Linked DNA regions of Homo sapiens: region 2 is linked to region 1. A link means that fine-mapping ties the variant in region 1 to the expression of a gene that starts in the linked region. Tissue or cell type: cerebellum. Region 1 holds a variant in brackets; the other region holds the start of a gene. All regions are shown on one strand. Distances are between the middles of the regions.

Evidence for each region. PIP is the estimated chance that this variant, and not a neighbour inherited with it, causes the effect. A credible set is the group of variants that fine-mapping cannot tell apart.
Region 2: it holds the start of ANKRD34C-AS1, and the variant in region 1 is the best candidate, but not a certain one, in a credible set for the expression of ANKRD34C-AS1 in cerebellum (GTEx, PIP 0.56).

What each region holds. Positions count from the first base shown.
Region 1 is chr15:80,087,215-80,091,455 of GRCh38, forward strand. The region is part of intron 1 of ZFAND6 (zinc finger AN1-type containing 6); the gene reads left to right. Among named protein-coding and RNA genes, the nearest start is that of ZFAND6, 30 kb to the left of the region's middle. The variant A/G (reference allele first, on the strand shown) is at 1,780.
Region 2 is chr15:79,282,173-79,286,413 of GRCh38, forward strand. It overlaps ANKRD34C-AS1 (ANKRD34C antisense RNA 1), which reads right to left and starts at 1,773. Exons shown (of 2, transcript NR_038997.1): 1 at 1,477-1,773. ANKRD34C (ankyrin repeat domain 34C) reads left to right here and starts at 550. Exons shown (of 2, transcript NM_001146341.2): 1 at 550-1,056. RefSeq lists an enhancer at 485-1,024 and a silencer at 676-874.

The sequences.
Region 1 (4,241 bases):
CTTCATACGAAATGGTCAAACTGTTTTCCCAAGTGGCTGTAGTTTTTTACATGCCCACTAGTCGTGCTTGGGAATTCTGTTTCTCTTCACCCTCATCAAAAATCGGTGTGGTCAGTCTTTTAAATTTTAACCATTTTAGTGGATGTGGAGTGGTATTCTATTGTGGGATTAATTTGCATTTCCTAAATGACTAATAACAACTCTGATTTGGAATGCTTAATATCCTACTTTTCTGACTGTAGCCTCCTGTCATTCCAATGCTCATTCTCCTTTTCCCAGCACGTTTATTCTTAAGCTTTAAGCTTTATCAAGATTTCTGGTCCCAGCACCTCTTGTTTCATTCTCTCCTCTAGCTTCAGTTCCCTCTTCAATCACTTTTCTTCCAGTATTCTTAGCTTTGAATCTTTGCCCAGTTTTGCCATCTACTCTGCTTCTAAGTGCTATCAGAGGAAATCATATAGTTTTGTTTTGACACTACTATGAATTTTTTTGTAACTTTTAATTTATATTTATTTTCAAACTTTTACATAGTTATTGCATGTACAGTACAAGGAGCTTTCATACATCGTTTTTCTAGATTCCCAATTGTTATACTGTGTCCTGTTTGCTTTATCATATTCTTACTTTCCTTGGGGGTGTATTATGCATGCATATATAAAAATTAAATTAGTATGCACATACTATATATGCATTGTATATATAATACATATGCATGCTATGTTTTTCTGAATCATTTGAGCATAAGCTGGAGACTTTTACCCCTACATACTTCAGTATATATTTCCATAGAGCAAGAATATTCTCTTACACAGTGTGATTAAGTTATCAAAATCAGGAATTTTAACTTTTATGCAATAATATTATTTAATATACTGTCCTTATTTAGTTTTGTCAGTTGTCTCAACAATACCCTTTATAGCTTTTTGTTTTGGTTTGCTTTGTTTTTTTAAGCTTTACTACAAACTTTATACTTTACAACTCCAGCTTGGACTTGTCCATCCTTTTTGATCCTAACCCTCTACCATTTTTCTGTGTGCTTATCTTAAACCTTCTCTATTCTTTAAGACTTTGGCCGAGCACAGTGTGGTTCATGCCTGTAATCCCAGCACTTTTAGGGCCAAGGTGGGTGGATTACCTGAGGTCAGGAGTTCCAGACCAGCTTGACCAACATGGTGAAACCCTGTCTCTACTAAAAATACAAAATTAGGGGGTGTGGTGGTGCACGCCTGTAATCCCAGCTACTCAGGAGGCCGAAGCAGGAGAATTGCTTGAACCCGGGAGACGGAGGTTGCAGTGAGCCGAGATTGTGCCACTGCACTCCAGCCTGGGCGATAAGAGCGAAACTCTGTCTCAAAAGAAAAAAACGACTTCGTCCTCACTCTTTCCTTATGCTTTATTGTTACCATTGACATAATTTTGTGAGTTTTCTCAATTTCCTGCCCCTTCTTTTCCTTAATTTACAAATACCTGTATCTTCATTTACCCTCTTTTCTTTATGGAAGATAAATTCTTTCTGGATAAGAAAATTCTGTTACGTGTGCTGTAGATCATTGCTGTCTAATATGGTAGTTAGTAGTGGCTATTTAAATTTATTAAAACTTAGCTCCTTAGTTGCACTAGCTCCATTCCAAGTGCTCCGTAGTTCCACAGGGCTGGTGGCTACTTAATATATTGGGTAGCACCTTTCTAGATTCCCTTCTTTCCCAACATTTGAGGGATTTTTCTTTATCTCATCTTTATCCATAATAGACCCACCATAATCTTGCCCTTGCTTATCTC[A/G]GTATCCTCATCTCAACGTGTACTGTACTTCAGTCACAGTAAACTACCAGCATTTTCTCTAAATACATTGTTTCGGGCCCTTTTCACTTTTACAGCTGTTATCTTCCCACATCTTCCTGAAAGACCTACTCATAATTGACAACTCCTTCTGTTCTTCACTGATCACACCAGATTGCAATAATTCAACATATTTGCCTCTTGTACCAAAGCTGTGAGATCCTTTGTGAGTAGGGGCCATATTCTGTCTTCGTGTGTGAGTGTGTGTGTTTTTTTTTTTTTTTTTTTTTTTTTGAGACAGAGTCTCTGTCACCCAGGCTGGAGCAGTGGCACGATCTCCTCACTGTAGCCTCCACCTCCCTGGTTCAAGCAATTCTCCTGTCTGAGCCTCCCGAGTAGCTGGGATTACAGGCTGTGCCACCACCTGGCTAATTTTTGTATTCTTAGTAGAGATGGGGTTTTGCCATGTTTGCCAGGCTGATGTTGAACTCCTGGGCTCAAGTGATCTGCCTGCCTCAGCCTCCCAAAGTGGTGGGATTACAGGTGTGAGCCACCACTCCCAGCCTAGCCTTTGTGTTCTCTTGACCTAGCATTCAACTATATGTTGAATTGAAATGAATATGTAATCTCTGCCTTCTAGCTGCTTACCATAGGCTGATTGATGATCACTTGTATAGACTCCATTGCCTGTGGAAATGGAATAGCTTTCCTTGTAATACTGCCTGAGCTCTGCTTTCCACCCAGTCCGTTTTAGCCTACTTGAGCCCTGGACCTTGACTGCTGTCTGGATGCTTGAACTATGTTTTCCTTTTTATTTTTCTAATCATCTAGAATCCAGCCTAACTCTCCACCCTTCTAGGTATTTATATTTTAAGAGTATCAGTCTACTTGTGACTCTTGAGTGCACTATGTAGAATCATGGTATCATGTTTTATTTAGTCTGTAATATCCTTCATCCTCATTCAAAATATTAAGGTGAGTCTCCCACCATAAACCAAAACAATCCTTTCCCTATAACGAAGCTAATCACTGTATAACTTCTCTTCCTTGTTTCTATTTGTGTTGTTTCATATTATATTGTGACTTGTTAATTTGTCTGTTTTCCTGAGTAGCAGCCATTCCTTATTCAAATCATACTGCTCAGAAACTTTTTCATTTCAGCTTACGTAGCTATTAAGTAGTAAAGCAAGAATTTGAAGCCAGATGTACATTTTTTTCTGTATCCTCAGTATCTGATAGTACCTAAGTACTCAAGAAATGCCTCTTGAATTGACCAGTGACCACAACTCTGTCAGAATCTGCATTTCATTCTTTTTGATGTCTTAGCATGTTCAGGTGCTTGAGCTTTGGAGTCAGACTCTCTGGGTTCAAATCCTTGCTTTACTGCTTACCAGCTGTTTGACCTGAGCAAGTTCCATAATCTCTGTAGGCCTCAGTTTCCTCATTCTAAATAGTTACTACTACCTTTAAGGGATATTGTGAAGATGAAAGGAGACAATGCAGATAAAACATTTATCATGGGACCCCTCAATTCTGTTCTTACTATTTGTCCTGCAATTCTGACTTACCTACTAGCTCTTAGTTAATCCTGCTCCATGCTCATCCCATGTTTTTGTTTGTTTTTTTAACTGGCAGAGCCAATGAGACATCTAAGTGAATTTCTAGTAGGCAGTTAGCAAAAACAACCCTGGAGAATGGTCTGAGAAAGAGTCATATTTGGGGGAGATTTGCTCAGAACTCCTATTTAGAACTTTGAAACCTGAGCTAATGTATATAAAAAGACAAATAGCAGGTGATGGGATTTTGAGATACCATTCTAGGAGCCATGTATCTTCAGGCAACCCAGTTTTCAAATATTTTTTATTGGTCTTCTAAATTTTTGGAATATTTTAGAAATAATAACTTTTTGACACCCTTAAAATACAGAGTCACACATTTGGAAGTAGCACAAAAATTTGAACTGCCTCTTTGCCGCAACCCACTAGAGGTTTATGTTTTTCTACTGAAATATTCTATCTTGTTGAATCACACATCCTAGGTTTTGATTTAGAAGATATGGTCACCATAGGTGTTACTTGACTTGGCCACTAGGAGGAAGAGAAGTTGCCAAAGGAAATTCTTGCAAAGAAAGATTTCATTAGTATCATATTTTCTATTTAGTTGTTAAGGGGTGTGTGTGTGTGTGTGTGTGTGTGTCGGGCACACGTGCACATGTGTAGTTTCTCACCCTATTAGGTGATTTTATATCAGAATGGGGTGAGAAGGAAGGAGGAGGATGTACGTGAAAATCTAGAGGTGTTATTGAGAAGACTGAGTACCACAAAAAGCTCTGAATCTGGATGCCTAATGGATGGTTTGTATGTGATTAAACTCCAAGCCATACTTCATTCTTCTAATCATTTTGGTAGTTTTCTCAGAATAATCAAATGTTCTTTTGAAAGAAAAGGTAACCAGGACCTTTCGTT
Region 2 (4,241 bases), 810 kb before region 1:
ACTATTAACTACTTTGTAAAAAGGAAACGAAGATTGTCCGCGAACGACTCCACAGGAGGCCCTGGGAATAGGTAGCGGGTGGGCTAAAACATTGATTTGGAATGAAATCCAACGGCCGTGGAACCAGCCCTGATCATCAAATTATTCCCAGTTTTGAGGATCGCACTGCACCCTCCTCTCTCCCTCTCTTTCCTACACCTTGGACAGACAGCCTGAGATTCCAGGGCGTGTGTGAAGGAAAGCCGAGGAGGGCAGGGCCGCAGAGAGAACAAAGGGGACACGAGTTCAAATTCCTGCCAGGGTCTGAGACCTGCAACGTCAGACTTTGGGAGCGTCCCCTCACTTCTCCGGACCCCAGGAGTGGCCGCGCCTGCTCCGCGCTCACCCTCGGGGAGTCTAGGAGCCCCCTGCTAAGTTGCTGAGCGAGTCGGAGCCCCAAGAGCTAGGGTCGAGGGGGTGGGGCAGCAGGCGCCTCTGCCGAGGCTGCAGGTAGGCACTTCCCCACCCCCGCGGCCCCCTCCTTCCTCCTTCCTCGCAGCTCGCACACCCACACAACCCTCGCCCGTCGCGGCTGGAGAGCTGCTCTCGGCGCCAGCGGGCAGCAGCGCGTCGTCAGCCAGCACAGCCGGCCGAAGACCAAGCCGGAGGTCTGGGGCTGCGCAGAGACCTGCACACCCGCAGCGCGGAACCGGGGGCGATTCCTATCTTTCTTTCATGCTTCTTTCTTTTTCTTAAAACCAAACCAAACCAAACCAAACCCAAAACTCCCCTGCTCCCACCGCAACTTGGAGGAGCGGTGGACCGATTTGAAGGAACTGACGCAGAGGTTTTATTCACGAACCTTGAAGAAGTTCTGGGCAAGTGACTCAACAGGACCCGCGGGGCCCGGGGTAGCCCCAGCTCCCGGCGCTGGTTCAGTCTGGCAGTGCCCTCTGGCAGCCAACCCGCAGCTGCAGGTAGGGGTGCTGGACGCCCCCTGATTTTGTTTTGGGAATAATAATGACACTACCTATAGCCTGGACCCAGGTGGCCTCGCTCGGCGATTGTCCCCACCAGGTAAGCGCACCCCCAGGGGTCTGCATTGGTCACCCGGGTGGGGACCTCGAGCTCCCGAGAAGTCGGTCCATGCTGTTTAGCCACAGGCAGGAGTGGGGAACTGGTAGGAGACAGCTTGCTTTTATCACAGGAAATTGTGGGAGACGGGAATGGAAGGCGGATTTAACATTTTTTATTTTTGCATTGACGCGTGGGGATGAGATGCGTAGGGGCCTGGATTCTTGTAGGAAATGGTTGCGGAGCGGGGCTGGGTGATAGGTGTCTGGATTTTTGCAGGGACTGAAGGGGAAGAAAGGTCGTCAGTTTTTGCAGAAACCTGTGAGGAACTGGCGGTGAGAGGTTATGATCCTGAAAATGTGCACGAAATTGTAAAAAGTAGGCACCTAAGCATTTCTGAGAAATGATGGGAGAAGCACTTACCGCCCTGGTTTCACCTGACCCCCATGCTCGGCCTTCTGGAAGATGCCCACAGACACTGGCAATAATGGACGCTGGCACACTCTGCCGGCGCGGCCGGAGCCCCGGAGTTCAGCACCTCGGACAGAGCCCGAGCCCCGCCGCCCGAGGCGCACAGTGAGCGTGGAACAGCCCGGCTCCCTAGCCCCCGGCCAACGCTGCTCTCAGTTCAGGGCAGCTACGTAACACCGCCCCTAGCTCCGCGCCAGAAAGGGCTCTCGAATCGCAAAAGCAAACGTGTTCGATTTCTGATCTGCTTCTAACTGCTTCCCGTGACTGCAGAAGGAAGAGGCGGAGTGTAAAGATATCTCCCAAGCTTCCGCGAAAACTACAGGCAAACTGTGTGGCCTCCCCGGATTTCGGAAGGTGTACCCAAACTTCTTTAAAAATCTAGCATTTATTAAGCGCTTACCATGTGCCAAGGCCCCGTGCTAAGCCAGTGCACCACAAATTTGTGTCCTATGAGTATCCCCATTTTACAGATGAGAAAACTGAAGCAAGAGAGGCCGAGTAACTTGTCCAGGTTTATGGAACTAGCAAATGGTATGGCTGCGCTCTTAAACGCTGCCAGATTGCAGTGGTGGGAGGATGTGCTTGAGTGGAATTCCCTGCGTGAAATAGCTCTGAACTTGGGATCAGAGGAACAGAGTTTAAATCAAAGCTGTAGCACTTAAAAACGTGTGCCCTTAGACAAAATTACTAAATGTGTCTGAACTTCAGATTTTAACTATCTGTAAATACTTGATAATGCTTTCCTTGCAAAAGTGTCAGGGGAGGGTGGCCAAGGAGATCATATGTGTGGAAAGACTGGCAAACTGGGAATTGTGGTTGGGTGTTAGGGGCTGAAAGGAAGGAGCAGGTAATTAGAAGAGAAGGAGAATTGGTGGTGAACACTTCCCTCAGCACACTCCAAAGGGACTGGGCACAGAGCGGGGCTCAGTGGGAGGAATTCTGGATGAGCTTAGTTCAGTGTGTAATAGCCTCTTAGATTTTTTAACAGGACTTTATAGAGAGTGTGGACATATTGCCTACCATTTGATCCTTATAACAATGTTGTTAAGTAGGCAGGACTGGGGTTATTCTACTTGTTTGGCAAAATGATGCTTGCCCAAAATTACTCAGGTACTTAGTAGCAGAGCTGGGATTAGAATCCAGATCTCCCGCCTCTCTAGCTTATAATCCTTCCACATGGACTGGCACATCCTCAGGAGCTTGAATTATGGGGCAGTTAAGCACTAAAGTGTATTTAGACAAGTACTATAAATATGTGACATTAATGGTTTTTAAAACCATTTTGAAACAGCAGTTTCATATGGATTAATCTCATAAATGTTTATTGATTATATTCTATTTTGTTCCACAAAGAATTTAAAGCAATTTAGAAGGCTCCACAAGATGTCAGGTTTGCACGTATTCGAAGTAGTCGAGAAAACAGAGGTGAAACAAGATTAAGGCTATAGCCACAGATAAAATGAATACAAAGTATGTATATTATAAAGTCCTAGAAACTTGCTCTGGTCTCTAAGTACTAGAAAGTGTATAACCAAGCACTTTCTTGGAGGTCTAGGAACTTTGAAAATGTTTGCAAAAGTCCGTAGACTCTTCTCTTTTGTATAATTCCATCCCTTGCCCTCTGTGAGATCTTCACTGTGCCAAACAAGGGATGTTTAACTGGAAATCCAATGTCAGTGTGACTTGAAGAAGGGGAAATAAAGTGTATGACATTGTATCTGCACTCAGGTAATTAAGTGTTAGTTACATAATTTATAATGGTTCACATGAGCAAACCATACTTTAAAGTTTATATAAAGGTTTACATCCGTTAGCTTATTTAGGCCTTCTAACAACTCTGAAGAGATAAGCAGCTACAAAATGACAGGAAGGACAAAATCCTAGCATCGCGATTTTATATATTATGTATTTTACTTTCATACACAAACCCGCATCCCTATACAGGCCAGTTAAGTAACCTGAATGTGTGAATCGGGCCAATTGTAAGACTACGGAGAATGACAGGGCCTTTTCAAACTGAAGAGTGAATAATCCATCTTAAAACATTCAAAGAAAATTTAAAGCACAGTGCCAGCCAAGCAAGACATGACTGTGGGCTACATCGGCTGTCAGACCTTTAATATGTAATCTTGGTCTAAACTACTCAGGCCAAGGATCTGAGAAGGCATGGGAGTGAAAGACCCTGGATTCAGAGAGAGAAAAGTTTCAATTCCTGTATTTAAGTTTCCTGTTTCTAAACATGGAAGATTGAACAAGATGGCTCCTCTCAGCTTAAAAAATATAAGACATCTTTACTTTTGGGGACAATAAAATAATCAAAGGACATCAGGACAATAATAGCAAACACTTGCATCTACTTATTGCCTCCATGAAAGAAGGCATCATTTTAATTTTCTGACACTGGTGATATTTTAATCTTCAGTATTTCCTCTCCAGCCCCTGTGCCATTGGAAGATATAGTGGCCACCATTATAGTGGAAATGAGTCCAACAGAAAACAGACCAGAGAGGTGAAAGTGATGGTGGGGGTGGAGTGGGGGTGGGGGGTTGGCGGGTAGAGACAGGGAGTACAGCAAGGGAGGAACCAGGCAAACTTTGCTCTCTTCTCAGTTTACTCTTCTTATGAAACACATGAAAAAAACCCACTTTATGGTTGCTAATTTTTAAAGACAAAAATATTCTGGCCAGAGCAGCCAAAGTGGATGGGATCTCAACATT